4 linked regions of the Homo sapiens genome follow. The protein of the gene in region 1 interacts with the protein of each later gene in a biochemical or structural test. Each region holds a gene or a part of one and is shown in the gene's direction. Other genes may lie near its edges. The genes, in order: LYN, NEDD9, PLCG2 and FASLG.

Region 1 (7,782 bases):
TACACTAGGTTTGTTGCAAGTCTGTTATTATTTCTGAGAATCATTTTTTTAAATGCACTCAGATTTATGCAAATGCGGGATGTGGGTAGGTGTGACAAATGCCTTACTAACAAGTCCCTGGAGTGCTTTTTGTAATGAGTTGATCATCACGTGTGTCCTTGCTGCTGTGTGGGAGGCTGGGTCCCTGCCATCATGCCCACCTGTGTGGCCGATCAACAGCGTTGGGAGAGGGGCAGCACAGGTTCCTGGTTGCTATTGTCAACTGTGGTTTCAGGCCCAATTTGGGACTTCAGCCAGCTTTGGCTTCTTTGGGTTCTTGGCCCAGTTTATATATAATTATTGGAATGTTAGGTAGATAAGTGTCTAAGAGCTAAGAATTTTTAAAGGCTGCACTACCATGGAGTGGAGCCGGGAGGCTGGGACAGAGTCAGCTATGACCGCTCAATTGCTGCTGTCTCATCTGGGCTCCTGTAACCAACTCTGGTCTGTTTGAGCCAGGCATCGTGGTTCTATCGCCAAAAGCCTACTGTGTTATAATCGTACACTCCTTTCTTTCACACATGCTCAGCCTGATCTTCGCTCTCCACTTTTCCCAGTTTTACTGGCTTTTTCTAACAAGTCTTGTTGAACTTGGGTTACCAGCAGACAAAAGGAAACAGAGGCAGGGCTCCTCTCTCCCAGCCGCCACCAAAATTGCCACCCCGTGTCATCTGTTTCAGTAGTGCCCACTCTAGAAGGAGCTATCCTGAACTTCCTGACGCCCTCACCATGCCACTGCCTGCTGTTTCTGGGCAGCAGAGGCTTCCTAGAGAAAGTCAGACTCAGGAGCTCTGCCTTCACCTGGTTATCACCACTGCCCACCTTCTGTTGACTTCCCATCAAGGCTGTTTGAATCTTTTCCAGGGTCAGGTAAAAGCTGTGCATCTCCCCAGTGCTCAGGGTTTGTGACAGTTGGGAGAAAGGCAGGGGACACGAAGTCACTGCTCTCCAAACCTGCCCTGTCCTTTTCCTACTGTCCGTCTGGTTTCTGCTCCACTCAGCCTCTGTCCCACTTCTCAAGTCCCTCATGAAATGAAGCCTCCTGCTGTGCTTAGTGCTGTGCTGTGCTCAGTGCTGGGATGGGTTCATGTTCCTGCAGAAATTGTGGACAGGTAGTCAGGTGAGGAGCAGGGAGCACTGGGGATGCATGCACACCTGGCAGGAGAGGGTATGCCAGGCATGGCTTCCGGGAGAAGTAAAATCTCAGCTGAGACAGGCAAACTGCATAGGTCGGGTGAAAGGGGCAGGGAGGGAATGAGCGTTCCACACAGAGGCAGGGGGTGTAGAAGCACAAAGGAGGGGGTCGTGGTGAGGAGGTGGAGGGCTGAGCCGGGGCCGGGTCATACGGGGCCTTGGCAGCAGTGCAAAGGAGCTTGGACCACATTCTTTGTTTCCACTCGGAAGTGAAATACTGGACTGAATAGTCTTTGAGACTGATGTAGGCCACACTGATTATTTTACTTGAGATTTTTGTGACCATGAGAATATCATCTGCCAAATCCCTGTAGTAGTGGGCTAACAAGATAGTATTCTGGTCATGTGAAAACCCCAGCCCATTTCCCAAAGGACTTACTTTGTCTCTGATAAGAGGTTTGGTGACAAGTTTGAAGGCTCCAATGTATACAAGTGAGAATAGAAAAGATATTTTCAGCCCTAGAGGTGTTTATCAACTGGCTAACATGACACCACTGAGAGCATTAAACAGCATAAAAATAATGACAAAGCTGTGATCAGCAGCTGCAGATGGTTTTTGTACACATTGACCATCTAGGGTGAGTAAAGGGGAGTTCAGGGAAGGCCCACGGGGCAGAAGGTGAGGCCAGGGATTGGCCTAGAGGGGAAGCAAAGGCAGACCCAATACCAAGGAGCTAATCTTTTGCTAAGCAACGTGGTCTGGAACTGGCGGCCTGAAGTGCTTGATTACCAGGGATACTGTTGCAGATGACTGGGGAAAGTCAGATCCTCCAAGCCGAGCCACCTGCAATTCAAGGTAGAATCTGGCAGAATACATTCATTCCTGTGTGAAAAATTCGAATCAGAGTTTTCTCTAACTGCTTACCAGATAAACTACTACTTGGCTTTCTTTACTTCTTGCCCTTTTTCTTGCTTCTTACTTCCCTCCTTTCCTCCTCTCTCCTTGTTTCCTTCCTTCCTTCATTTCCTTGTTCCTTCCTTCTTTCCTTGCTTGCTTTCTTCCATCCTTCCTTCCCTCCTTCCTTTCCTTTCTTCCTTCCTTCTCCTTAACTTTATAATTTGGTAATGTCTTCCTTAAAAACCTGACTTTGGAACGATACTACACTTTCTATTCAGCAACGAGTAGTAGTTTTGCCTCCCTATGTTATTGTTGTGTTTAAATCCTGGATTCTTTCCTGCTGTCATACTTTGTCATGAGAGTGAATCTTGCCGGGCGTGGTGGCTCATGCCTGTAATTTCAGCACTTTGGGAGGCTGAGGTGAGTGGATCACCTGAGGCCAGGAATTTGAGACCAGCCTGATGAAACCCCATCTCTACTAAAAATACAAAAACTAGCATGGTGAAACCCCGTCTGTACTAAAAATACAAAAATTCGCCAGGCATGGTGGTGCGTGCCTGTAATCCCAGCTACTCGGGAGGCTGAGGAAGGAGAATCACTTGAACCTAGGAGGCGGGAGGTTGCAGTGAGCTGAGATCATGCTACTGCACTCCAGCCTGGGGGAGACAGTGAGACTGTCTCAAAAAAAAAAAAAAAAGAGTGAATCTTTGTGATTGTCCTGGAGGGAATGTGCAGAGAGAACTTGGAGAGCCAGTTCCATGGGCTGTTGATTAACCTGACAGAAACGACATCCTGTTCTTGATACCTTAATAATTTATTTGTATTAGCATGTCACTTTCTCCAACTCTATTTTCATAGTTGGTTCAGGCTGCCATAATAAAATTCCATAGACTGGGTGGCTTAAACGAGAGACATTTATTTCCCACAGTTTAGGGGCAAGGAAAGCCCTGGCAGGTTTCATGTCTGATGAGGGGCCATTTCCTGGTTCATAGATGGCACCATATAGCTGTGTCCTCACGTGGTGGAAGGGGCAAGGCAGCTCTCTGGGGTCTCTTTTACAAGGGCACTAATCCCATTCGTGAGGGCTCCACCGTCCTGATCTAATCACCTGCCAAGGCCCTGCCTCCTAATACTATTGCCTCGGGGTTCAGGATTGCAACATTTGAACTTTGGGGTAGGGGGCGGGGAATGGGACACAAACATTCAGACCATAGCATCTGTTTTCTGATTTGAGAAACTGGCATAATAACATCTATGTATCTACATGGATGAATTTAGCAGGGTCTTGAAAAGATTCTTCACACATTAGAAAATGTTAAGACATGGCCAGGCGCGGTGGCTCACGCCTGTAATCCCAGCACTTTGGGAGGCCAAGGCGGGCGGATCACGAGGTCAGGAGATCGAGACCATCCTGGCTAACATGGTGAAACCCCGTCTCTACTAAAAATACAAAAAATTAGCCGGGCATGGTGGTGGGTGCCTGTAGTCCCAGCTACTCGGGAGGCTGAGGCAGGAGAATGGTGTGAACCCAGGAGGTGGAGCTTGCAGTGAGCCAAGATAGCGCCACTGCACTCCGGCCTGGGTGAAAGAGCGAGACTCCGTCTCAAGAAAAAAAAAGAAAATGTTAAGACATGTTCCTTTTTTTTTTTTTAAGATGACCATTGTTGGAGATTTGGCAGAGGGTGGTCAGTTATTTTAGAAAGGGCTCAAATGGTGATTGCCATTACCCACTGTCTTTAAAAGCTGAATGATCAAAATAGTATACATGAAAAGATTTCAGGAATTCATAAGTTTTCCGGTTTTCCTTGATGGCACTTTCCAGTCACCTACCCTACATATGAAAATGGGAGCCTATTTCTGTTTTCAGATTGCAGAGGGAATGGCATACATCGAGCGGAAGAACTACATTCACCGGGACCTGCGAGCAGCTAATGTTCTGGTCTCCGAGTCACTCATGTGCAAAATTGCAGATTTTGGCCTTGCTAGAGTAATTGAAGATAATGAGTACACAGCAAGGGAAGGTATGTTGCACTAATGATCTTTAGATGTTTTATTATTGTGTTTTATTTTGTTTTTGTCTGTTTTTGACAAAGCAATTACAATAGTCACCATTAAGAAAAACTTATTTGGTACAACATTTAAGCTGTACCATAATTGTCTGCTTATGGTTCTATTCTAATAGTTTCTAGAAGGTACTCTCTTGATTAACTCCACATGATACTTTTGTTAGGCTTACAAATGCTATCAGTTGTATTTCAATTAAGCAATGCAAAACACAAATAGATTCAGCAAGATGATTCTTGTTTATTTTGTATTGTTAAAGTTTTCACTCAAACAATGAATATAATATACGGGGCTGTGGAGAAAATATTTGTAACATTAATTCTATATTGTTTATTCCAGCCTTTTAATTACAAATTAAAACATGAACATTACCATACACACAGAACTAAATATAATGCAAAAAATCTACTTCTTTATTTTCCCACATTCTGTATTATATATATGAACCAAAAATGCACAGAGAGGCCTAAGTTCCCCAGCCTGTGGCACATTGTCAGGGGGCCAAGCATGGTCGGGACTGCAGGGCCTTTCTTGGGCTAGGATTGCCCACGTGGTTATGACTGAGGATTCTTATGCTCTCACCCACGAGAGCTGAGCAAATATTTTTGCAGTGCTCACTGTCTTCTGGAAGAGACAAGCACTTTCTTGAAATTCCTAAGCATTGTTGAACAAGGATTATTATTATTTTATTATTTTGAACCTGGGAGGTGAAGGTTGCAGTGAGCCGAGATCGCATCATTACATTCCAGCCTGGGTGACAAGAGTGAAACTCCGCCTCAAAAAAAGAAAAGAAAAGAAAGTATGGGGTCACATGTTCATGACTTTTTTGTTTAAGTTTAAATACCCAAGTAAGAACCACATATCTTCTTCCTTAGGTGCTAAGTTCCCTATTAAGTGGACGGCTCCAGAAGCAATCAACTTTGGATGTTTCACTATTAAGTCTGATGTGTGGTCCTTTGGAATCCTCCTATACGAAATTGTCACCTATGGGAAAATTCCCTACCCAGGTATGGTTTACTTAGCTATTTACAATCAAGCTGTATAAATGAGAAAAAGTCAGGTTGCATGAAGGCATTAAAAAGTAATAATTACTTCATCTACCCGATAGCAAAGAATAAGTGCTTTGAGCCAGAACTTGATTTTCACGGGCTGGGCATGGTGGCTCACGCCTGTAATCCCAGCACTTTGGGAGGCCGAGGCAGGTGGATCACCTGAGGTCGGGAGTTGGAGACCAGACTGACCAACATGGAGAAACCCCGTCTCTACTAAAATTACAAAATTAGCCAGGCATGGTGACGCATGCCTGTAATCCCAGCTACTCGGGAGGCTGAGACAGGAGAATTGCTTGAACCCGGGAGGTGGAGGTTGCAGTGAGCTGAGATCGCGCCATTCCACTCCAGCCTACACGACAGAGTGAGACTCCATCTCGAAACAAAAAAAAGACTTGATTTTTATTTTCACTATCTTTAGCATAAATTGTTCTAAGAGTGCTTAGACACTTCTTTGCCTCCTTATTTTGAGTGTGTGTTCTTGTTCTGCACTGATTAATTCCACCACATACTAGAATGTTCCGGGCATGGTTGTTGGTGTCGAGATGAGGATGGATAGACACAGGGGCTCCTCCAAGGCAGTCCCCCTGACTGGAAGGAGGAAACCCACATGGAGACAAGGATTTCCGATGCTTGGTTTTGTAATAAGTGCCCTGGAGTCTCTCTCTCTTCAAGAAATAACCACCTTTGTTTATCAGTGGGAGGCCCTTCTGCTCTTTAACATACTGGTATCAGTGAGGGCATCATTCAGTATTTATTTCCAGATTCCTAACACCTGAAGCCTGCAGAGCCAGATTCTGACCATCCCTCCATTTTTCCATGGTCTGTGCTGGCATGGTTAAGAAGAGGGATTTCGGCCAGGTGCAGTGGCTTACACCTGTAATCCCAGCACTTTGGGAGGCTGAGGTGGGTGAATCACGAGGTCAGGAGTTCGAGACCAGCCTGGCCAACATGGTGAAACCCCGTCATTACTAAAAATACAAAAAATTAGCTGGGCGTAGTGGTGGGCATCTGTAATCCCACCTACTTGGGAGGCTGAGGCAGGAGAATCACTTCAACCTGGGAAGCACAGGTTGCAGTGAGCCGAGACTGCACCCCTGCACTCTAGCCATGGCGACAGAGTGAGACTCTGTCTCAAAAAAAAAAAAAAAAAAAAAAAAAAAAGAGGGATTTCTCCCAGAGCCTTCATATTTTCATTTATGTTTGACTATTAACAAAATATTTGCATGAGGGGAATTTAAAATTAAATTTTTAATGTTTAAATCTTTCTCCTATTCAAAAAATATTTGAGTATGCTAGGCACTCTCAGCTGCTAGGATGCCATGGTATCTGCCCATGTCCTTGAGAGTGAATATTGTAGTGGGGAGAGACTGATGTTTATCAAACACACAGCCATCCTGTAGGGTGGTGAGAGTAGTGTGGAGCCTGCGTGGAGTGGCTTAGGGATTGGCGAGTACTCACAGAAGGGGGTGGGGAGCTGCTGGTTTTATTCCATGGTCCTGGCAGCAGCAGGGACTCACAGAGGGAGGGAGTCTTGGGCTCTCTGAGGTCTGCATGTCCCCATGGGGAGAGCAGCCAGAGCATGGGCTTGGCCAACAGGAGCAGGAGGCCAGCGTGGTTTGGGCCTCTGTGAGTATTTGATGGATGGATGGGTGAATGAATGAATGAATGAATGACGCACCTAGGCCATTTGATCTCTAGACAGTCGATGGATGAGAAAGAAGGCTATGTAGCTGGGGGTTAGAGTGGCTCAGGGAGAGACTTACTGGCCATGTAAGAGCAGCCCCTCTTACTCTGCTGAGATGCAAACCAGGGAAGGCTTTTGGACAGAGCAGCCACACAGTCTGCGTGCTCCCATCACTACTGTTTCATGTGGGGATGAGCCACAGAGAAACTGGGGCAGGGACCAGTTGGCAGCTGAAAGCCTTTGGGTGGTGTCTGCCTGCACAGTGGACCGGCTGTCCCAGGAAATCCCTTTAGTGCCAGCATTTCATCTTCCAGCTGCTCTAGACACTGAGATTAATGAATTAACATTGCTGCAAAATAGGAAAAATATTTCTAATCAGCCCCAGTGTCTGATGTTATATATCTCTATCTCCATCTATGCCTACATCTCTTTCTATAATCTGTCTGTAGAGAAAGATTATATAGTCAGATTATGTATATAATCTGACACCTGATAAACATACAATCTCATAAAAGAATGTTTTGTGATATGCGTGGTGTGCTGCATGTGATGTGCTACCATGGCCCCTGAGGCTTGGAGAAGGTGATTGGGCCCCTCGCTGGTGGCAAAGCTGCTCTGAGCCCCAGATCCATGTGCCTCCCAAGACCCCTCAGCCAATGTGCACAATGCCCAGGATTTGGAAATATTTGGGGTGAAAAATCATTTTTTGAAAAAAGAACTGGCTGGGCACGGCAGCTCACACGTGTAATCCTAGCACTTTGGGAGGCTGAGGCAGGTGGATCACCTGAGGTCAGGAGTTCGAGACCAGCCTGGCCAACATGGCAAAACCCCATCTCTACTAAAAATATAAAAATTAGGCTGGGTGCAGTGGCTCACACCTGTAATCCCAGCACTTTGGGAGGCCCACTTTG
Region 2 (7,782 bases), on another chromosome or scaffold:
GTGTGAATAGGCTGGTGCCGGGGTCCTGGCTACTAACAGCACTGACAAGCTGTGCCTGAAACCTAATCTCTATGGGCACTGAGGAGGACTGCTGGGAAGTCCTGACAACCAGTCAGGAGGACTCACCTGCGGTGCCCACATTAGCCCAGACTGTGGGGCTCTGAGAGTTTCCCCCAAGAAGCAGCTCACAGGCCAGTGTAGAAACATTAGCCAGCTGCTCACCAGGTGGTAAGAAGGTTACTGGGGCAGGAGACAAAGAACGCCCAGGACGACTCTCGCACGGGGATTTCTATCTGCCTCTGATCAAGCATGCTCCGGTGCTCCACTTCAGTGCCTCATGGTGCTCTTGGAGTTGGAAGTGGCCCAATTCCGAATGCCTTGAGCTGATTTATGCTGATTAGATCTGTAGCCCTTTGCCTTTCTACTGTTTTCTGTTTCTCTTCTTTCCCTTCTTTGTAGCCAGTATAATTGCACAGCTACCAACCCTCAGCTCCCATACAACTAGCCCGACTCTGTTGCTTCTGATTTCATGTGGGGGCTTCCCGATTGCTGAATGGGCCCAGAAGAAAGGGACAGACAGAGGCCAGAGTGGTCAGCTATCTCCTCACTTAATAATCTCAGTACAGCTCTGGTGGAGTCATTTCCTGGAGGTCATTTTAGTAAAAGGACCAGAATCTTGTCCTCTGTAACTCTATGACTTCTCTTGTAAAATACAGAATACCCAAAAGATGGGAGAAGAGAAACAGAGACAATTTTAGGATTATGACACCATCCTTAAATGGTTCCATGAACAGGGGAAACTGCTGCCTGATTTTTTCTTTATGTATGTGAACTTTTCATTGTTAGATGAAACCCAGCGCCTCCTGGAATATTAACTACCCAGTGAAACCTTCCCCTGAAATATGCACTCCTCAGTTTCCCTTTAGCTTCCCTGGCCGCTCACCTCTCTGTGTCTCACACTTCCTGGATCTCATAACTGTCAAGAAAAAGGACTTCAACCTTATTCTTGAAGAGTATCACAAAGCTTCCTGAGGACTGTCCTCTATGGCTTTATCTCTTTTAATTGCCCTGGCTAAGAGGAACCTGGCTCACAGCAGCAGAACTGGACCCGTCCCAACTACTGAATAGAGGGCAGATCCCTTCCATTGCACAGCCCTCCAGAGCGGAAAACACACAGGACCCGTGGCAATGGGGCTAGCACAAGGGGACGCGAGTAGTGCAAGTCAGCTGCAAAGAAATGAAAAGCACGAGGCTGAATGATCAAGTCCACGTTGCTAGAGAAGAAAATAGACAGCAAAAGCTCAGACAATGACAGCCGAAAATCCCACGAATATGTCATGGTATAAAATAAAGTCATGAACCTGCCCCATCCAATCCGTAATCCTTTCTTCCATAAATGAGCCCCACCTCAATGACATTAAGTGCATCCAAACATCTTAACAAAGCATTAGAGTTCACTTTTAGTGTTCCGAGGGCTTGTGCTGAATCAACAACGTCCCCGACTTCGCTGTGCTCTGGGAAGGGGGCAGACATGCGGGAATGGCTGCCCGCGTGCTGGGAAACTTTACTAATGCCAAGAAATGAAATCTTCCGAGCCTTTGAAAGGCCTCCAAGAATGTCAGCACGTACTGCCTGCCCACTCTCTGCTGAATGCCTACTTTGGCTGTCTGCTTAGTACTGAATGTGCCAGACAGGCCTTCATACAAAGACGGAGAGTGTGTTGGGCCCATGAAAGGGGAAGGCACAGCTTTTCTGATGTGAATGGTGAGATTCAAGAAGTAGGTGACGAAAGGGGAGGGCGAGGAGGGGCCCTCAGGAAAGGTATGCATAAAAGACCGAGAGAGAAGAGTTGGCATCCACCTATGTGTTAATAAATTTGTTGTCAAAGCTGGAGATGTATATGGCTGCTGGCCTATGCTCCACGCTTGATGGCATGTCTACATGCCTTGCTTGTGGATTCTCTCTGGATCCAAGGCTCCTGTCATCTGAGAACAAGAATTTCTAAGCCCTGCCAAGGCATATATATGTGTACTTCTATTGGCTTTTCAACTCCAAATATAAATGCTATTTGTACTGTGTGTTATTTGGGATTTTTCTTTTACTCTTTTCACCTCCAATATAGAACAATATTGAGAAATGTTCATTGTCGAACATCTGAATATCTCGGGATTTTTTTTTCCTTAAGCTCACTTTGAAAAAGGAAGAAAAATGTTTTGTATAGTGAACCATGCTCTAACTCTGTAACACTGCTACTCATAATTCCTTGGCACGGCATATCCTGCTAGAGGAAAGAACTCTTCTGGTGTTTTGAGCTTTTCCAAGGAGGCAGTCTGATGTCACTGGTGGCAGATGCAGTGTATATGTATCTGTCTTTTGTCTGCACCATCTGTTTTTCTCCTTACAGTCTATTGTTCAGATTTATGCTTCTCTCTTTCCAGGAAGTGTGCCTTTCCATAAGAGCACGGGCCTTAGGTGATAAAGGGACCGACCCAATATTCTAACACGGTTTCCTTCTCTTCCTTCCCTCCTAGAATCTTATGGCAAGGGCCTTATATGACAATGTCCCAGAGTGTGCCGAGGAACTGGCCTTTCGCAAGGGAGACATCCTGACCGTCATAGAGCAGAACACAGGGGGACTGGAAGGATGGTGGCTGTGCTCATTACACGGTCGGCAAGGCATTGTCCCAGGCAACCGGGTGAAGCTTCTGATTGGTCCCATGCAGGAGACTGCCTCCAGTCACGAGCAGCCTGCCTCTGGACTGATGCAGCAGACCTTTGGCCAACAGAAGCTCTATCAAGTGCCAAACCCACAGGCTGCTCCCCGAGACACCATCTACCAAGTGCCACCTTCCTACCAAAATCAGGGAATTTACCAAGTCCCCACTGGCCACGGCACCCAAGAACAAGAGGTATATCAGGTGCCACCATCAGTGCAGAGAAGCATTGGGGGAACCAGTGGGCCCCACGTGGGTAAAAAGGTGAGTAAATGACTAACTAAATTTTTGTTCCTACTTATTTTTTTTTCCCATTACACTTGGAGCATTTGGAAATGTTCCCAAATTAATAACTTGAAGCTGCCAAGAAGTAGATATAACCAATACCTTAGCTCAGGCATCATGTTTGCATGATTTTGCCATTCATCCATCATTCAGCAAAACTTCTTTGAACTACCATGTGCTGAGTACAGTTGATTTCCAGCCCTCCTAAGTTCCTGTGTCATCCTGGGTTACATGGGTTATTAAACTGTTTCTCTCCATCTTTCTCATATATCAGCTTCTAAGCCTTCACTCTGTGCTCAGATCGTTTCCTATCTTTTCTGTTTCTTCATTGAGTGGAACAAACACCAAATCTCGTACAAGCCTGATGATGCAACAAGGATCCTCCCTTGGCCAAAAGCTGAATCATGACCTCAGTGGCCTGGCTGGACAAGGAACCCACCCAAAGTAGCGAGAGTGAGGAAGCTGGGAGTATGTCATGCTGACCAACTCGTTCTATAGAGTTATCAGCTTAGTTTGACTCATTTAAAAATGCACAGATACTAGTGGAATTGGAATGAAGCCATCCTCCTGTCCTTCAAGTCATTCTTATAATAATGCCTGAGGCAGTGGGTGAAAACAGTGGAGCTTGGATATTTAGGAAGGAATTAATTTAAAAATACAGTGTGGGGAGCTCTGCAACACCCTGTGTAATCCCAAATACTTTAGCAATTTGAGGTCAATAGAAATTCACTAATTGAACAATGAATGTTGAGCATCTAATATATTTTTGATGCTTGTGATACAGTGATTAATTAAAGATAAACAAAGCCCTGGTGATGCTTACATTGCCGTGGGGGAGACAGAAGCAACCAAGAGAATGCTAGGTAGGGACACGTGTTATCAGGAAAATAATGTCAGTGGACTGATCGGGGGTAACACCCACAACCAAGGTGATGCTTATGTGAGCATCACAAAGGAGGGATTTTCTCTTTCATTTGCTGGCAAATTCCAATGGGTCCTACAAGGTTTGGTATTAGGAATGAACAAATTTAACTGGATAAGAAGATATCCCTGAATTACAAGAGGAAAGATGCAATTACATACCAGAAAGAGCTTGTTGACCCTTAGAACACTAACTATAGATGTGTCCTGCCCCAAGTAAATCTAATATGAAGTCTGATTTTACAAACCTCTGTAAATTAGGGAATATCTATTTGATGTATTAGAATCCTCTGTTGAAAAAACAAAGGATTCCTTTAAACAATGAAAGCACTAATGCATTTTTGGGTACATGGAAAGAGGCAGCCTAGAGACCCTGTGGAGAGCCCTTAGTGTTTGGCTGGGGAGGTGCCAGGGCCACCCTCCTGCCCTCCCCATCCTGGCCATGTCACCACCCCAGACCCTGACCCTGTGTGGGTAGATTCCTTTAAACAACAAAGCACTAATGCATTTTTAAATCACCTTTGATATAAAAAGTATGTTTTACAAAATACTTCTCAAGAGCACGCGTGTGGCATGAACTGAGCGTAGGTTCGTTAAGAGGGATTCCTCAAGGGTGGTGCACAGCTTTTAGACTTGTACTGCCCACGACAACGATGCTGCCTAGAGGTGATAAACTGACTTGTGGCTTTTCAGTCTTCCTTGTCCTAGGAATTGTAGATTCAAAGGGAAAACAAAACCTGGCTTCTATCTCCAGAGGGGAAAAATAACAGTTGAAAGGTGTAACTATAAATAAGTAACTTCACTCATTCTTAGTCCTGGTTGTTTGCACCTTAAAAATAGCTCTCCCACATCTGAGCCAGTGTGAGGCAGAAGGGGAGGCCAGAGCAGGAAATGCTTGGCTGGGAGGTGGTGGGCTCTAAACTTTCATCACAGTTGACTTTGGCAGGAAGGTAGCGTGTTTTCCTTTTTAGACCCAACCTTTTCAGCTCCAAGTCAGAGAAGCCTAAGCCTTCAGACTTCTTCCCCTTGTATCTGCTGGGACTGCCCTGCAGGCTTTCCCCATGGCTCCCCGTCCTTCCAGAGGGCAGAGATACGGACTCATCTTCCCTTGGATTGATGTCAAAGGGCTGGGGTGCTGGGGTGACCCTCGGGCACTCACATTCCATGTTTTGTTTTGCTTTTTTTAAGTCTACACTCAGTAGAACATTTTCTGTTTAGCAAAAGGTAGATGAGTCCTGCAGGAGGAAATCAACTTCTGAAAATGACCTGTGCCAGCCCTTCCAGGAGTTGCAGCCAGGGCTGAAGAGTAGGCCGTGCCTAAAGCATCACACAGTCAGGGTCTGGGGTAGTGACATGGCCAGGATGGGGAGGGCAAGAGGGTGGCCCTGGCACCTTCCCTGCCAAATACCAAGGGCTTCTCCACAGTATCCTGATCCTGGGTCTCTAGGCTGCCTCTCTCCATGTACCCCAGAGCAGTGGTTCACATCCATGGGAGTGTGGTTGCCTCTTCCTTTCTTTTCACTCCCTTCCTCACTTCTCTTTTCTATCTCTCTCTCTCTCTCTCTCTCTCTCCCCCCATCCCTCCCTCCTTCCCTCTCCCTCCCTTCCTCCCTTCCTTCCTTTCTTTCATAGTGGAGATGGCTTAGCTGCTAGGAGGTGATTTTAGCCTTCCAGGCAATTGCAACTGCTTTAAAAAACATCTGTCAACATCTTCCTGGGTATAGGATATTCTCAGTGGGTGGGAATCATTCTAATGACTTAAGCCTAGGCCCTAAGAGATAATCCCAGCACACTGGGGATCAGGCGTGGCTTTTTCATTTTTCTGAGTTTGCATTTTAGTAGTTTTACTGACTGGCTTAATAAAGCAATTTGCTCATTTTCTCTTTAAATTTTTCATCTGTAAGATAATATGAGCCCAGAACTAGATATGCCTGGTAGTTTAAGCTATGGTCTTTAAAAGCTCTTGAATAAGAAAATAAGGAGGCAGTGGAATCTTATTCTGAGCCACCGGGGTGGGGTTTAAAAATGTTAATGGGCATAGAATCACCCAGAGAGGTAGGGCAGTGAGTTTAAATGCAGATTCCCAGGTCTTTCCCTCAGAGAAATTAATCCAGTAGGTCTGGTTGGGGGCCCAGGAATCTGCATCTTATTGAGCTCCTTGCATAGTTTTGTGGGTGGTGGCCTAGGACTAGACTTTGAGAAACACTGTAAAGGGACCATGAAGGGGCTGGGACATGCTCCAATCTGATTATGATTTGGGACTTTCCATAGTTCAAAATTCCCTTGATATTGCTACAGACTGTGGGCTTCCGAAGTTTTACCCAGCACTGCTTTTTTCTACTAATGAATCACTTAAGGAAAAAAAAAAGACAGTGAATTCTGCCTTCTATCACTTCAACTTTGCTCTCTTGGAAACTCCAACCTCTACCCACCCTCTTGCATCCCCTCCACACTAACTGACATTCATCACATATTAAATCAGCATTTAGAGAAAGAAATATAGTCATAAAATCCCCACCCTTTTAGGAAACAAGCAGACAGTGTGAGAATTGTGGAGAGAGTAAGGCCTTCAGGGTTCAGCTGATGCTGGGTTGTTTCTCCATAGCTGTATATCCTTTGGTAAGTTACTGACCATCTCTACGCCTTGGTTTCTTCATCTGTTTAATGGGAATGATACTAACTACTTCATAGGCTGTCGTGAGAATTAAACAGAAGCATACATAGAAAGTCCCTGGCTCAGTGCTTAGCATGGCAGGGGCTTAAAAGAATGCATTCCTCTCACCTTGCGTTTCCTTTCTCAGAGTTTATTTCCTACTACATCAGCCCTGTTGTGTTTCTTACGACACACCGAAGGTACAAGTGCTTTCTTGCTAACACATATGCTGTGTTTTTTGAGTGTGTGGCTTTCTCTTTGGTTCTGCAAGAATTCTGCAAAGGGTGGAAAAAAACTCTCCAAGTTATCTGAAAACCATATACGCTGACACCTTTACTTAATTTCATTGGTCTTTTTCACTCTGTGTTTTGTGCACAGGGCCGTTTTATCCATTAGGCGTTGTAGGCAATATGCCCAGTGCCTATAAGAATGTTTGGGAGCTGAATAAAAGATCTTTTGACTCCAAAATATGAAACACAAAAACTGCAAAATAGAAATTAATAAACATTTAGGTCAATGTCTAGGAAACCATATCATGTCTGCCCCATTAATTGTTTTATTTAGGGCTTATAACTATTTCATCATATTAGAAAACAGTATGTAGGTTATATTTTTCTCACTTTGCAAAGATTTCTAAATATGCATCATGGTTGCCAAGAACCCACAGGCAATCCTAAATTAAATAAGTTACTCATAGTCGAATAATTTGAAAAACTGAATTATAAAGGAAGAAAAAAAGTTTTCAATTTTTAACAGCAAAAATTCTACTTAATATGGGATTATGGTTTGGGGTAAATGAAATCTACAAATGTTCAAAACCAAAAGCCTAAAAAGATCTAAAATAGTCTCATTTCTCTGCTTCAAAGATCAGTGAAATTGCTACCTGAGTTCATCCATTTCACAGTTGATCTGCATGGGAAATTATATGTGCTTCTCTGATTTTTCTTTGGATGTGTCGCTTTTATTCTAACTGCTGGAACTATTTGTTGTACCTCTTTCTGAAGATCAGTTTGGGGCTAAATTACAAGCTCCATCAGCACAGGGGCCATGGCTGCCTCCTGACTGCTGTAGGCTGAGCACTTGGTAGAGCATCAGCCCACAGATAGCAGCCCAGTGAACCAATGAACAGGTGGAAGCAAGAATCAAAGTGTTAAATGAGAGTTAACCTTTAATTAACTGAAAGGTGGTTCTGATCTTATCACACATCCA
Region 3 (8,736 bases), on another chromosome or scaffold:
GTGCCCATCATGCAGGACTTTGATGGTTGCTGCTATATCCCTGGAGCCTGGGAGTGCCTGGCCCCTTGCAGGCACTCCGCAAATGTTTGTTGAATGAATAAATGAGCTCCACCAGGACTCCAGGTTAGAGGTGCTCAAAGCAAAACCATGGGTCGGGCACAGTGACTTATGCCTGTAATCCTAGCACTTTGGGAAGCTGAGGTGGGTGGACTGCCAGAGCTCAGGAGTTTGAGATCAGCCTGGGTAACACGGTGAAATCCCGTCTCTACTAAAAATACAAAAAAAAAAAAAAAAAAAAAAAAAAGCCAGGCGTGGTGATGCACGCCTGTAGTCCCAACTACTCAGGAGGCTAAGGCACAAGAATCACTTGAGCCCAGGAGGCAGAGGTTGCAGTGAGCTGAGATCCAACCACTGCACTCCAGCCTGGGCAGTAAAAAAAACAAAACAAAACAAAACCCACAAAACCATTAAACCGGGGGCTCCACCAAGCTGGCCACAATTTAAATAGCAGAGGGGTCTGCCCTCCCCTACCTCCAGAAGCAGTGAGGCCTAACCCCATTGAAAGCCCATTCTGGGTGGTACTTCCTCTCACAGAGGCCTGCCAGCCAGCAGCTGGGACTCGGCTCGTCGCCACGGATGTGTGCTTCTCTGAACAATGTTGGGAAAGGAAACTAGACTCAAGGGCTCCAGGGGGTTTTCTGGTCATTTTGGCTGTGGGGGTAGAGGGGTAGGGTTGGCGAGGTTCCCTGGGGCAGGGCGGTGGACCTCAGCCTGGTCACTGCCTTTGGAGGTGGTGGTGGAGGAGGGGAAAGGAGGTCTGGGTTTGAAATAACCCTCTAAGGGTGTTTTTTTTTTTTTGGTCAGGGTCTTACTCTGTTGCCCAGGCTGGAATGCAGTGGCACATGATCTCGGCTCACTGCCTGCAACCTCTGCCTCCTGGGCTTAAGTGATCCTCTTGCCTCAGCTTCCCGAGTAGCTGTGACTCAGGCTCACTCCACCAGGCCTGGCTAATTTTTAAAGTTTTTTGTAGAGATGGAGGTCTCATCATGTTGTCCAGGCTAGTCTTGAACTCCTGGGCTCAAGTGGTCCACCCTCCTTAGCCTCCCAAATAGCTGAGATTACAGGTATGAGCCAATGTGCCCAGTCCACAGATATTTTTCAAAACAGCTTTCTTGAGATATAATTCACATCCCATGCAACTCATGCATGTAAAGTGTACAGTACAGAGGCTTCAGCACATTCACAGAGCTGAGCAGCCATCGTCACAATCCATTTTAGAACATTCTTATCATCCCAAAGAGCAGCCCTGTACCCCTTATCTTTTACCTTCCGATAGGCCCGCTCTCTGCTTTCCTGGTCCTTGGCAACCACTGATCTACGTTCTGTCTCTGTAGATTTGCTAATTCTGCATATGCTATAGGTGGGTCTTATGATGGGGAAATTAAGTCCAAAGAGGGTGGCTGAGCAGCCCACAGCCATAAAACTAAGGAAGGGGCAGACTTGGAACTGGAGCCCAGATTCCTTGTTTCCAAGTTCATGCTTTCACAGGAGGTCTTCTTCTTCCCAGTAACAATTCCTAAAATAGTCAGCCTTGGTTTTGCCCCATGGGGATGAGGGCTTTACCTCCCTCATCTCACAGTCCCCCTCAGATGTAGGTACATTTCTGATACCCATAGGTATAATAATGAGGAAACTGATACCCAGAGAGGCTAATGGTCCAATGCACCATGGCTGCCAGCAAAGAGAAGAGGGTAATAGGGAAAAGCATTTGTATGCCCAAGGACTGGTGAGCAACACAGAATACAAAGAGTCAAGATGATTCAGCTTAAAATGTAATTTTCTTTCAGGTTATTCTTTCTTACCTATCCACTTCCCTTTTTCTTTCTTTTGTAGGAAAAGGAAAAGAAAGATCCCTCTACCCTTTGAGGTCACTTCCTGACCCATTTGTGCATCTATGTAGAGTGGTTACAAACTCACATCTCCCTGCCTGAATGCCTCTTATTAATCTGGGGATGGGTGGCAGGTCAGCATGCCCATGGGCTCTGACACCAGACAGGCTGAGGTTCAAATCCAGCCCCCACCACCCACTGACTTAACCCACTCTAGCCCTCTGACAGCTAACCTGTGACAGGGCCTTTCTACCTCATATGTCTGAACCCACAGAGTGGTTTCTTTCTCTCTCTCTCTCTCTTTCTTTCTTTTTTTCCTTCTTTCTTTTTTGTTTTTTTTGACGGAGTCTCACTCTGTTGCCCAGGCTAGAGTGCAGTGGTACAATCTCGGCTCACTGCAAGCTCCACCTCCTGGGTTCAGGCCATTCTCCTGCCTCAGCCTCCTGAGTAGGTGGGATTATAGGCACCCACCACCAGGCCAGGCTAATGTTTTTGTATTTTCAGTAGAGACGGGTTTTCACCATGTTAAGCAGGATGGTCTTGATCTTCCAACCTCGTGATCCGCCCGCCTCAGCCTCCCAGGGTGCTGGGATTACAGGCGTGAGCCACCGCGCCCGGCTCAGAGTGGTTTCTTTCCCTACCTATTTTATTCCATGGAAAAGAAAGAATACACAGAATGGTTCCTTCCCCACCTATTATCCTTGGGAAAAGAAGTGTCATTTTACATTAGAGTCCTCCCAGAACAGCGCCTGCCGCCTTGATGATGACGACGATTGTTAATTCTGAGATGGAGTCTTGATCTATCACCTATGCTGGAGTGCAGTGGCACCATCTTGGCTCACTGCAACCTCTGCCTTCTGGGTTCAAACGATTCTGCTACCTCAGACTCGTGAGTAGCTGACACTACAGGTGTGTGCCACCATGCCTGGGTAATTTTTGTATTTTTAGTAGAGAGGGTGTTTTACCATGTTGGCCAGGATAGTCGTGAACTCCTGATCTCAGGTAAGCCGCCTGCCTTGGCCTCCCAAAGTGCTGGGATTACAGGTATGAGCCACTGCACCTGGCAGATTATTTTTATTTTGAACAACCAAGTTAGAGTTTGAGAAAGAGATGAAGGGCCTCCAGTACTCTCTTTCAATCCACTGATTCCTTCAGTCGTTCACCTGGGGGGTGGGGTTGGGCTAGGGGTTGGTTAGCAAAAAATGAGCCAAAGAAGAAAATGAATTAAAAACATGAAAGAAAAAAAAGCAAACTGCCATTTACGATGACCATTATCTCACACACAGTGGACATTTTAACTCAAAAATACTATAGGCTCACAGGCATAGATTAAACAGAGAAACCTGTTCTTCATGTTCTTATTTTTTTGCTTGCTTCCCACAGATGAGAGAAAAATCCAGCCAGAATTGGCATCTGTCAAGATAGGCTTTTAGGAGCCACGGCTCCCTAGAGTGGTCTCCACACATTCTGATTATATGCAATCTCATTTTGCCATCAAGAGACTTAACCCACTCCCCTATCCATGTAGACTTTGTAATAATAAATTATACATATATATGACTGAACTAATATATTATGTACTTTATATAACACATACTAAAACAAAAGTGTGAAAAAGATTGGTTGAAATAAATACAAGCTGAAGTTCTAAAAAAAAAAAAAAAAAAAAAGTGAGGCAAAGGAATTGCCCCTAGATGTAGTCATTTTTCCTGGGGAATTGGCCCAATGACTTCAAGTGGTTGATGTCATAATGAGTCCTTCCAAGATCTCTTTAAAAAATTGATGTGTTAAGTGATCTGTGGTGATGAGCACAGCTATACACGCCAGTTGGGAGTGCTGAAAGAAATGAATCCACAGATCTTGTGAAGTCACAAACGAGTCCTATGGCTTGGGATACAACATTGACAGTGAGAGTGATATTCCTCAATTAAAAAACGCTATAACAGGCCGGGTGCAGTGGCTCATGCCTGTAATCCCAGCACTTTGGGAGGCCAAGGTGGGTGGATCACTTGAGGTCAGGAGTTTGAGACCAATCTGGCCAACATAGTGAAACCGCGTCTCTAGTAAAAATACAAAAAATTAGCCAAGCATGATGGCATACACCTATAATCCCAGCTACTCAGGAGGCTGAGGCAGGAGAATCGCTTAAACCTGGGAGGTGGAGGTTGCAGTGAGCCGAGATCGTGCCACTGCACTCCAGCCTGGGCAAGAGAGCAAGACTTTGTCTCAAAAAAAAAAAAAAACAAAAAAAAAACAAAAAAAAAAACAAAAAAAACCAAAAACACACACACACAAAAAAAACGCTATAACAGACCAGTGGCACATGCCTGTGATCCCAGTGCTTTGGGAGGTAGAGGCAGGAGGATTGCTTGAGGTCAGGAGTTCAAGAACAGCCTGGGACACATAGTGAGACCTCATGTCGAAAAAAGAGAAAATTAGCCAAGTGTGGTGTGCCTCTATAGTCCCAGCTCTTCAGGAGGCAGAAGCAGGAGGATCGCTTGAGTCCCGGAGTTCGAGGATGTGGTGAGCTATGATGGCACCACTGCACTCCAGCCTGGGTGACAGAGTGAGACCCTGCCTCTTAGAAAACAGAAGCTATAACTCAAGCAACTTGGAAGTGAAATTCAAGTGCCTGACAGCTGTCTAGGTGCCCCTGAAACTGCCTCTAGTCACAACAAAGATACCTCCATCAAAGAGCATAGGAAGGGTTTGAATCAGATAGCTTCATGCAACACACGAACGGAAAAATAAATTTCTTAAAGAACATATTAGCTTCTTCCCATGAGATCAGGAAAACGGGACATCAATTGTCTGGGGTTCTTTGCTCCTGACTCCCTTTGGGGCTGGCACTATGTTGATCACGTTTTACAGATGGGGAAACTGAGGCTGTCGGTTTTTAAGTGGTCTGCCTAAGGTAGCAGTAAGGGTTGGTCTGACTCCAGCGCAGCCTCAACGAGGGCTTCAAATTAGGGCCATGAATTGGCAATTCCTGGCGGGTAATTGTGAAGAGTATATTTATTTTTAATTTTTATTTATTTATTTTTGAGACGGAGTGTCTCTCGGCCACACCCATCCTAGCTCATTGCTGTCTCGAACTCTCGAGCTCAGACGATCCTCCCGTCTAGGCTTCCCAAAGAGCTGGGATGACAGGCGTGAGCCCGGGCGCCCGGCCGGGAGTGTGTTAAGTATACGGCAAACACCTGGACTGCGGCCGGCTCTCCAGGAATGCCATGATATTGGGGAATTCCCTTTGCACCTGGCCAAGTGGCCTCGGGCAGGTAGCCTCCCCTCGGGTTGCCTCAGTTTCTTCTTTGGCACGCAGAGGCGGGGCTCCAGGCCTGGGCCGCTCCATGGCGGGGAGGGCGCGGGGACGCTGCACTCGGGGTGCGCTCCGAGAGGCGGACCCGGCTGGGCGCGCCTGGGGCGGGGCGAGGCGGGGCGAGGCTGGGCGGTGCGGGGGGCGGCCCCCGAGGATCACGTGGCGCGGCGCCGCGGCCGAAGCAGAAGTAGCGAGCGCCGGCGGCGGAGGGCGTGAGCGGCGCTGAGTGACCCGAGTCGGGACGCGGGCTGCGCGCGCGGGACCCCGGAGCCCAAACCCGGGGCAGGCGGGCAGCTGTGCCCGGGCGGCACGGCCAGGTGAGCTGCCCGGCCGGGAGCGAGGCAGGCAGGGCGCCCAGGGACCTGCGCCCCGCGGGGACCGGCTCCCAGGGCGCTGCGTCCGAGGGGGTCTGCGTCCTGGCTCAGCCGGAGCGGGCAGGGACGGGGCGCACCCTCGGGGACCCCGGCCCGCCGTGCCCGGGGTCCGTTTGGTGACGGCAGGGATCCTGGCCCAGCCGCTGGCCACTTCCTCACCCCGGGCCGGCGCCACCTCTCCGGTCCGTGCGGTGGGGCGGCCCCAGCTTTGAATGGGGACCGGGAGGAAGGTCAGGGGTCGTGTGGGGGCTGGCGTTCAAAACTCCTCTTTTCGAGCGGCTCTGCGTGGGGTGGCGCCGTCTCTCTTGACGGCCCTTGTGCCCAGAGCTCGCGGACGCTCGGAGCCACACTTCCCTGTCTCACTTCGGTGGTTGCGGGTGGCGGGTGGGAGCGATACCGCGGGAGGCGCAGTCCTTCCCGGAGACTTTTGGAGAGCTTGCAGGACACTCGCGATGCCCGCTCCGCAGCTGTCTGCGTAATTATGCGTGTGTCTGTGCGTGTTGTGTTTTGTTGTGTTTTGGAATCCCAAAGAGGGCATTACCCGCACAGCGCAAGAGTTCAGGTTAAAGACGTGCCCCGTTTGGACGGGGAGCTCCTGGATTCCAGCAGGACGGTGGGGCGGGGCTCTCTTGGTACCCTAATCTTGAACTAGGGTGAGAAACTATGGGGGGCGGGGTGGTAAAGGGGTGACATGGCGCGAGGGAAACAGGTGGCCTTGCCCGTCGGAACTTAATTTGAATTTCAGTTCCATCAGTGGGACCCTGGGCAAGTTGAAGAACCTTTTTGAGTCTGTTTCCCCCTCTGGATACTGGAGCCACCCAATTTTCCAGGGCTGTGTCGAGAATTGGGGCTTATTGCTGTTCCACGAGGTTCGCTGAGAATCGGGGCGCATCCATGGAGAGTCCTTGGGCAGTTCCTGACTCTCTGGTTCAAGGGCATTCTCTGGGGCATGGGCCCTCGTCCTTGACTACAGTTCTGCGGGGAAGTTTTACAGAATTTTGAAGTCTATGCCAGCCTCAAGCAGTTTCTCTTGCAAAGGTGTGTGTGCAGTCACGTGTATACCAGCTCAGGGACAATCGTCATTGTGAGCCTCACTGATGTTTAAGTCACCTAATGATGCAGCTGCCTTCCCCCACCAGCGACTGGAGTATGGGCAGTTCCTCTGGAAGTGGAAAAGCACAGACCCCATGAATAGCCCTTTTGCACTCATTGGGTAGAGTCAATGAAAAGCTGCTGGTGAGAAAACTTTTGAAAACATTTCTTGGTCAGGCACGGTGGCTCACACCTGTAATCCCAGCACTTTGGGAGGCCGAGCTGGGCTGATCACTTGAGGTCAAGCGTTCCAGACCAGCCTCACCAACATGGTGAAACCCCATCTCTACTAAAACTACAAAAATTACCTGGGCGTGGTGGTGGCCGCCTGTAATCCCAGCTACCCAGGAGGCTGAGGCAGGAGAATCACTTGAACCCAGGAGGTGGAGGTTGCAGTGAACCCAGATCATGCCACTGCACTCCAGCCTGGGTGACAAGAGAGACTCCATCTCAAGACAAACAAACAAACAAACAAACACACACAAACACTTCTTAATTTAGAAAACAGCAAGAACACAAAGAGAAAAATTTGCCCGTTACATCATCAGTTAATATAAATAAAGTCAAGTTGTATCCTCTACCCTCTCCCAGCCTCCGATAAATAGTAACCACTCTCCTGGATTTACCAGAAGATCACCTTTATAAAAAGGGAATTGTATTATACTCATACAGTTGCAACTATTGTCTGAAGCTATTTTTTTATTGACCTCACAAATCTTTCCAGATCAAATTGCTTATCTATCATCCTCATTCTTTCTGATGGCTACTGAGCGTTCTTCAGTGCATGTGCACCATTATTTATCCAGGAGGCCCCCCACATTGATGAGCAGTTGTTTTCTGTTTTTTTTTCTTTTTTTGTATTTCTATTGCAACTATTGCTTCCGTGATTTTCTGTCGTACATATTGCATCTTTGTGCATGTCTTTCTTTACATGTACAATTGCAGGATCGAAGCATATGCGTGTTTTGCTTTTTAGTAGCTGCTCACAGGTTGCCCTAAAGGAGCAGGGGTGGAATTTACACTCTCACTTGCAGTGGCTGACACCATTCCTTTGAAAATAGTGTATTCCCTCTAATGCTGCAGGGTGGGTGTAAGGTGCAGCAGTAATGTCCCTTGAACTGTTGGAGGGGCCCTTACCACTCAAGTATTTGCCTGTGCTCCATTTTAACACAATTGTCTTGTGGGATTTTTGGATGAAATCCTGTACTGGCTTACCATGCACAGAGCACTGAAGAGACAAAAACTTCCTTGATTTCTGGTTTTGGGTCCTCGCATCTCATTTCATGTCCTTTCCCCCCCCCCCCCCGCCCGCCCCCGAGACGGAGTCTTGCTCTGTCGCCCAGGCTGGAGTGCAGTGGCGCGATCTCGGCTCACTGCAAGCTCCGCCTCCCGGGTTCACGCCTTTCTCCTGCCTCAGCCTCACGAGTAGCTGGGATTACAGGCATGTGCCACCACACCCGGCTAATTGTTTTGTATTTTTTTTTAGTAGAGACGGGGTTTCATCGTGTTAGCCAGGATGGTCTTGATCTCCTGACCTCATGATCCGCCCACCTCGGCCTCCCAAAGTGCTGGAATTACAGTCATAAGCCACCGTGCCTGGCCCATTTTATGCCTTTCTAAATAAGCTTATGAGATACAAGAACATGAATGAGCTTATGAGATACAAGAAAAACCTTTAGAAGGACATGAAATGTAAAAATGGCAAAAATCAGTTATTCAAACTCAGCCATATTTGTATTTACAAAATAAGTCATTTTATAGAATTACCCATTAAGAATGGGAAACAGGAACAAAAAAGGGATTTCAAGGCTTTTTTTTTTCTTTTTTTGAAAAAACCAAAAAAAGCAGAAGCAAAATGGAAGTTGCTGTGGTGGCTGGTGCTCTCTCCTGGGCTCAAGGTCTTGGAGACCTCCCTGCCATAGTTGATAAAGCGTGGAACGCTGGAGACCTGAGCTGGGTGCTGGCAGGATTTGAATGGTGGACTCCAGGGATCTTTTGGCCGTGAAGATCTGTTTCCAATTGCATCTCATAAGCTCATTCATGTTCTTGTATCTCACAAGCT
Region 4 (6,056 bases), on another chromosome or scaffold:
AATTAAAAATAGGGAATACCAATTTTCATCAAATTAATAAAGATTAAAAAAAAACCCAGACTGACAAAGATTTGAGAGAAAAGTGCCTGTGCAAACATTAGTTTCAGCCAGTATACATGTAAATTGCTATAACTTTTTTTGAAGAGCGCTTTAGAAATACATAGCAAAAGCTTGTAACTAGTAGTTTACGTTGTAATCCTATCGCTAAGAATTTATCTTAAGAAAATAATCAGAGATGTGCCCGAAGATTTATATATAAGGATGTTCATTACTTCCTTATGAGCCTATTTATAATAAATAATTCAGAAGAAACTTGAATGCCTCATACGAGATTAGTTATATACATTATGGTGTATTCAGACAAGCACATAATAAGCAGCAACTAAAAGTGATGTATCAGAAGGACATTTAATGCTTTGGGGATTGTGCACTCTGTATTGTTAGATAAAAAGACAAGTTACAAAAGGGTATGTTTAGTTTCATACTGACTATGTAACCATGTATGCACATTTTTATATTCTTAGGAACTGGAAAGTTTTACACACTGACATACTAACAGTGATTTTCTCTGGGAGATACTATTATAGATTATTTATACTTTCTAATTTGCTCCTTTTTACATTTTCCATTTTTTTCCGGTTAACTAATTAAATCTTTTATTCATTCACATGTGTGAGGCTAGATGTTGGGTGTTGGATGCTGATTGAGGATGAGCCAGCCCAGGGGGCCTGTCCTTATGGAGCTTTTAGCAGGGGGAAGAAGCTAAACAAAAGCAAGCAAACAGACCATGCAATTCCAAAGTTGTACTAAGTACAACCTGAGAATCTTCTTTAAGGAGGTGTTGTTTACGCTAACACCTTGGGGGTCAGAAGCCCGATGAGTGAACGGCTGTGTGCATGTGCTGTGGAGTGGGGTGGGGCTGGGGGCGGGCATTTCAGCGCTGGGAACGGCACATGCAAAAACCCTGGGGCAGGAAGCACTCATAACCAGTGTCTAGGATATCCTTGCAATTTATTTATTCCAGTATAGGTACAGCAGATATTCTTAGTGAGCATGTTCTGTAAGAATAACGTTGTACTAGGCTCTGTGAGGGATATAAAGACATGCAACATGTGGTTCTCTGTTCCGTTTCCTGCCGGTGCGTGGCTGAGTGCCAGATTAGTTGCTCGGGTGGTTTGCGGTGTAGGAATGCAGAGGAGACTCAGTTTTGCCTTTCCTGTTCGCTAACACCTCCTACATGGTGGGTTGTCTTGGATGACTAGAGAGGTCATGATTGCTCAGCTAATGTTCTCTGTGGATTGGGCCATTCTCATACCATATGTGAGTTTTACAGGCTAATCACGAACCTGACATAGACAAGCATCTCCTGTGAATATTTATTGAAGTCTCAGTTAGCTGAATTCATTAGCTAAGTGGCAGCTGTCTATCTTGTCTGAAACAGTTGAAGTCAGAGAAATAGTGTCTGTTTTGAGAACTATTGTCTATCCTTCCATTTAATTTGTCCAACATTTGCTAGTAACATGCCCTGTGTTAGAAACTGGGCTTCTCTGGTGAACTCAACGTATCGTAAGGAACTTGTCGTTATTTGAGGGGAATAAGATAATTTATGTAGTTACCCCAGAGACAAGAGGAGTCAGAAATGACAAGAGAGGGGAAGACAGAGGGATCCTAGATTTCAAAAGAGGGGCAGATCATATTTGATCAAAAAAGGCTTGAGAGGGTTTCCCAAAGAAAGCGGTAATAGGTAGTCCTTATGGGATGTTTAGGAATTTGACACAGAAATCTGCTTGAAAGAACATTACGGGCAGAAGACATGGCATGAACAAAGGCACAGAGGAAGGAAAGTGGGGGTATGTGTAGGCCACAGAACTCCCGTTGTGTGGCAATGCTCAGTGGGAGTAAGGAGATAAGGCTGGACAGATGGGCTGGGATTGTGTGATGGGGATACTTGTATACGACGGCATCTTCGGGGAGGAGCAATTAAAGGTGTTTGAGGACTCAGTGATATGAGGTGATTGTCAGAGGTCTTAAGATAATTAATTTGGGGCAGATTGTAAAATGTCACTGGGGGAAGATCTGGTGACACGCAGACAGATCAGTAGTCTTCTTCAGCCTCTGTCCTGTAAGTCTTTGGAACAAGAGAATCAGAGTGGACAGAGCCCTGGAATTGGCGTCAGGAGAGCAGGGTGTGGTCCCATCTGTGATGCTGACTAGCTGGGTCTTCTTGGATTAGTCACCCAACTTCTAAGCTCATTTTGCAATCGATAAGGTGGGACAATAATACCTACCTCAAAGGGTTGTGGTGAGTTCTAAATGCAATAACTGACATGACAGCTCTTTATGAATAAATGTTTATATTAATTATGTTTTATTGTAACATTATAATTTATACATATGTCAATCTTAATTTGGTTTATTTTTTTACCTCTTTGTTTCTGAAATATAGACTACTATGAATCCTGCAGTTCAGACCTACATGATTAGTATATGTTAGACTGTTGCCATTTACGGTTTTAAAATCTTTTTTTTAAAATGATTGGATTTAAATTCCCACCAAAATAATAGTTGCTATTTCATTTTAACATATATTTTTCCTCTCTCTATGATACAGGCCACCCCAGTCCACCCCCTGAAAAAAAGGAGCTGAGGAAAGTGGCCCATTTAACAGGTCTGTATCTGGAAGGTACAGGTGAGATTTGGGAAAGCTTTTGGCAAAAGGCAAAATGGCTGCCTGGTTTCCATTACCAGGCTCTAGAGAGTTGTTACTTCCTGGAGACAGTATTTGAACCCAATAATACTAACACTTTTCTTGTCGAGTCAGTCTTATGAACACACTTTGATCCCCTATTCTCTGGGCAAGGCCCTCTTCTAAATTGGAGACCTGGAGCTGATTATGACATGACCCCTGCCCATAAGAAGCTCATTCTTTTCAGTCATTCCAAAGTCCCTTGGGGGATTGGGGGCACAGATCCAAGAGGTGAGAGATGAGAAGGTGAGGAATGAGGACTTATTTTAGTCAGTGCTTTCTTGGTTTTCTGGAAGAGCTTCACTCTGCTTTGTCCAAGAGTATAAATAGGAGTGAGAAGGGAGACTCAATCCTGGCACTTGTAGAGTTTCAATATGTGCCTGTAAAGTGGAGTGAAATGATATGGTATGGGCACTCCCATTATAAACTACATAAATAATGGAATAAATATCACAGAAAGTGGTAGGCTATTGTCCCTGGAATTATTTAGGCAGAAATTATAGAATGATCCGGTCACATCAGCAGACACTTACTGAATACCTGCTGTGTGCCAATTTGGGGATGTGAAGATGAGTAGCACATGGCTCTTGCCCCCAGGGAGCTTGACATCTAATAGGGAAAGACAGGCACTTATGATAATTTCAGTACTTCAGAGATTTAGGTTATGTTCATGATGTTGTGGGGATACAAAGAAAAGGGAACTGTACCCCAAATTGAGGGGCTGAATAATTCTTACTGCAGGTGAGAAGATGGACCAGATGGTCCCTAAGATCCTTCCCAACTTTAGAACTTTAGAGTTCCTTGGATTTGGCTTTTTCCTTCAGGAAAGGACTTCAAAGCCTAGCAGATTTGGTGCTAGTTCTGAAGATAGTAAAATCTTTGTTCCAGAGAGCAAATATTTTCTCAATAATTTCTTACTGCAATGGATTACGGGTATATACTATTGTTCCAATTGTGTGGATGACAAAATAGGACAACGTTGTTGAGGAAATTCTGTGATGGATCAAGTTCTGACCCCTCAGCCAGTTCTATACCAGCTGTCATTCTGGGTGAAACATTTGTTGAAGGAAGGGCCCACAGTTTTGCCTTAGAAACTTAGTTTGTTGGATGCATGACTATTCCTTGTTGAAAGCTCCTTTTGGATTTATTTCAGGCAAGTCCAACTCAAGGTCCATGCCTCTGGAATGGGAAGACACCTATGGAATTGTCCTGCTTTCTGGAGTGAAGTATAAGAAGGGTGGCCTTGTGATCAATGAAACTGGGCTGTACTTTGTATATTCCAAAGTATACTTCCGGGGTCAATCTTGCAACAACCTGCCCCTGAGCCACAAGGTCTACATGAGGAACTCTAAGTATCCCCAGGATCTGGTGATGATGGAGGGGAAGATGATGAGCTACTGCACTACTGGGCAGATGTGGGCCCGCAGCAGCTACCTGGGGGCAGTGTTCAATCTTACCAGTGCTGATCATTTATATGTCAACGTATCTGAGCTCTCTCTGGTCAATTTTGAGGAATCTCAGACGTTTTTCGGCTTATATAAGCTCTAAGAGAAGCACTTTGGGATTCTTTCCATTATGATTCTTTGTTACAGGCACCGAGAATGTTGTATTCAGTGAGGGTCTTCTTACATGCATTTGAGGTCAAGTAAGAAGACATGAACCAAGTGGACCTTGAGACCACAGGGTTCAAAATGTCTGTAGCTCCTCAACTCACCTAATGTTTATGAGCCAGACAAATGGAGGAATATGACGGAAGAACATAGAACTCTGGGCTGCCATGTGAAGAGGGAGAAGCATGAAAAAGCAGCTACCAGGTGTTCTACACTCATCTTAGTGCCTGAGAGTATTTAGGCAGATTGAAAAGGACACCTTTTAACTCACCTCTCAAGGTGGGCCTTGCTACCTCAAGGGGGACTGTCTTTCAGATACATGGTTGTGACCTGAGGATTTAAGGGATGGAAAAGGAAGACTAGAGGCTTGCATAATAAGCTAAAGAGGCTGAAAGAGGCCAATGCCCCACTGGCAGCATCTTCACTTCTAAATGCATATCCTGAGCCATCGGTGAAACTAACAGATAAGCAAGAGAGATGTTTTGGGGACTCATTTCATTCCTAACACAGCATGTGTATTTCCAGTGCAATTGTAGGGGTGTGTGTGTGTGTGTGTGTGTGTGTGTGTGTATGACTAAAGAGAGAATGTAGATATTGTGAAGTACATATTAGGAAAATATGGGTTGCATTTGGTCAAGATTTTGAATGCTTCCTGACAATCAACTCTAATAGTGCTTAAAAATCATTGATTGTCAGCTACTAATGATGTTTTCCTATAATATAATAAATATTTATGTAGATGTGCATTTTTGTGAAATGAAAACATGTAATAAAAAGTATATGTTAGGATACAAATAATTTTTAGAATTTACTAATATTTGAATTTTTTGCTTATTATTTCTTTCCTCCTTGATTTCTTCATTCATTATGATATCAGACCACTTTTAAGAATAATTTACTGGAGTGAGAAGAACTATGAATCAAATCTTTCTGCCTTTGCTAGGCCTTCCTTCTCTCTATATATTCTCTTTCCTCTTCACCTCCCAGAGTTTCCATTACCAATATTATGACCAATGTTAAGCTTAGCCAACTTTCCATAGATTTGATGAGAAATTATATTTTCCTGAAGGCAGAACCATGGCACAGTGGAAAGGGCACATATTTTGGACTAAAAAACTTAGATTTGAATCTTTGTTCTTCCACGTACTGCCTATGTAAGCACTGGTTAGGTCACTTGACCTTCCTTGAACAAAAAAAGAGCTGAAAGTATCAGACACATAGAACATCAAAAAATAGTGTCTGCCACTACTAAGCCACTCTATTAGAGCCACTTCATTCTCCAGAGGCCACTGATCTGTGGGATCCATCTAAGCACCTGGTTTCTTGTATTCTCATGCTTGTCATTCACAACGGCCTTTTCCTATTTTCTTCAACCACTCACTATCATGGGCTCTCCCTAGACTTTGTTATCATTAAAAATTATAGTAACTCCTTTGGAATTTGATTTTAGGTGTCTTATTTTCACAACATCATCTTCTATTATTCCAGCGGAATTGGTCCAACATTTTCTTTTCTAAAATATTTTTGAAAATATTGAGACTTCTAATTAATAAACTTTATTATTTTCTTATATACACATCAGCTCCTTCCACGTCTTCACTTCTCTCTATGTCCAGCATAAATGTCATCATCTGTCATGACAACCAGCACCTTGGAAAGACTCTCAACTCCAAAATACTCTCTTCCTCCAATGTATTCCC

Evidence for each region.
Region 2: the proteins of LYN (region 1) and NEDD9 form a complex in vitro, tested with the Homo sapiens proteins (one study listed by BioGRID).
Region 3: the proteins of LYN (region 1) and PLCG2 form a complex in vitro, tested with the Homo sapiens proteins (one study listed by BioGRID).
Region 4: the proteins of LYN (region 1) and FASLG form a complex in vitro, tested with the Homo sapiens proteins (2 studies listed by BioGRID, with this or other methods).

The regions. Positions count from the first base shown.
Region 1 is NC_000008.11:55,994,408-56,002,189, forward strand, and holds part of LYN (tyrosine-protein kinase Lyn), read left to right. Parts: intron 1-3,938; coding exon 3,939-4,092; intron 4,093-5,010; coding exon 5,011-5,142; intron 5,143-7,782. UniProt on the Homo sapiens protein: Non-receptor tyrosine-protein kinase that transmits signals from cell surface receptors and plays an important role in the regulation of innate and adaptive immune responses, hematopoiesis, responses to growth factors and cytokines, integrin signaling, but also responses to DNA damage and genotoxic agents.
Region 2 is NC_000006.12:11,208,477-11,216,258, reverse strand, and holds part of NEDD9 (enhancer of filamentation 1), read left to right. Parts: intron 1-2,531; coding exon 2,532-2,978; intron 2,979-7,782. UniProt on the Homo sapiens protein: Scaffolding protein which plays a central coordinating role for tyrosine-kinase-based signaling related to cell adhesion. As a focal adhesion protein, plays a role in embryonic fibroblast migration.
Region 3 is NC_000016.10:81,773,900-81,782,635, forward strand, and holds the start of PLCG2 (1-phosphatidylinositol 4,5-bisphosphate phosphodiesterase gamma-2), read left to right. Parts: upstream 1-5,391; 5' UTR 5,392-5,525; intron 5,526-8,736. UniProt on the Homo sapiens protein: The production of the second messenger molecules diacylglycerol (DAG) and inositol 1,4,5-trisphosphate (IP3) is mediated by activated phosphatidylinositol-specific phospholipase C enzymes. It is a crucial enzyme in transmembrane signaling.
Region 4 is NC_000001.11:172,661,723-172,667,778, forward strand, and holds the end of FASLG (tumor necrosis factor ligand superfamily member 6), read left to right. Parts: intron 1-2,611; coding exon 2,612-2,668; intron 2,669-3,899; coding exon 3,900-4,294; 3' UTR 4,295-5,154; downstream 5,155-6,056. UniProt on the Homo sapiens protein: Cytokine that binds to TNFRSF6/FAS, a receptor that transduces the apoptotic signal into cells. Involved in cytotoxic T-cell-mediated apoptosis, natural killer cell-mediated apoptosis and in T-cell development.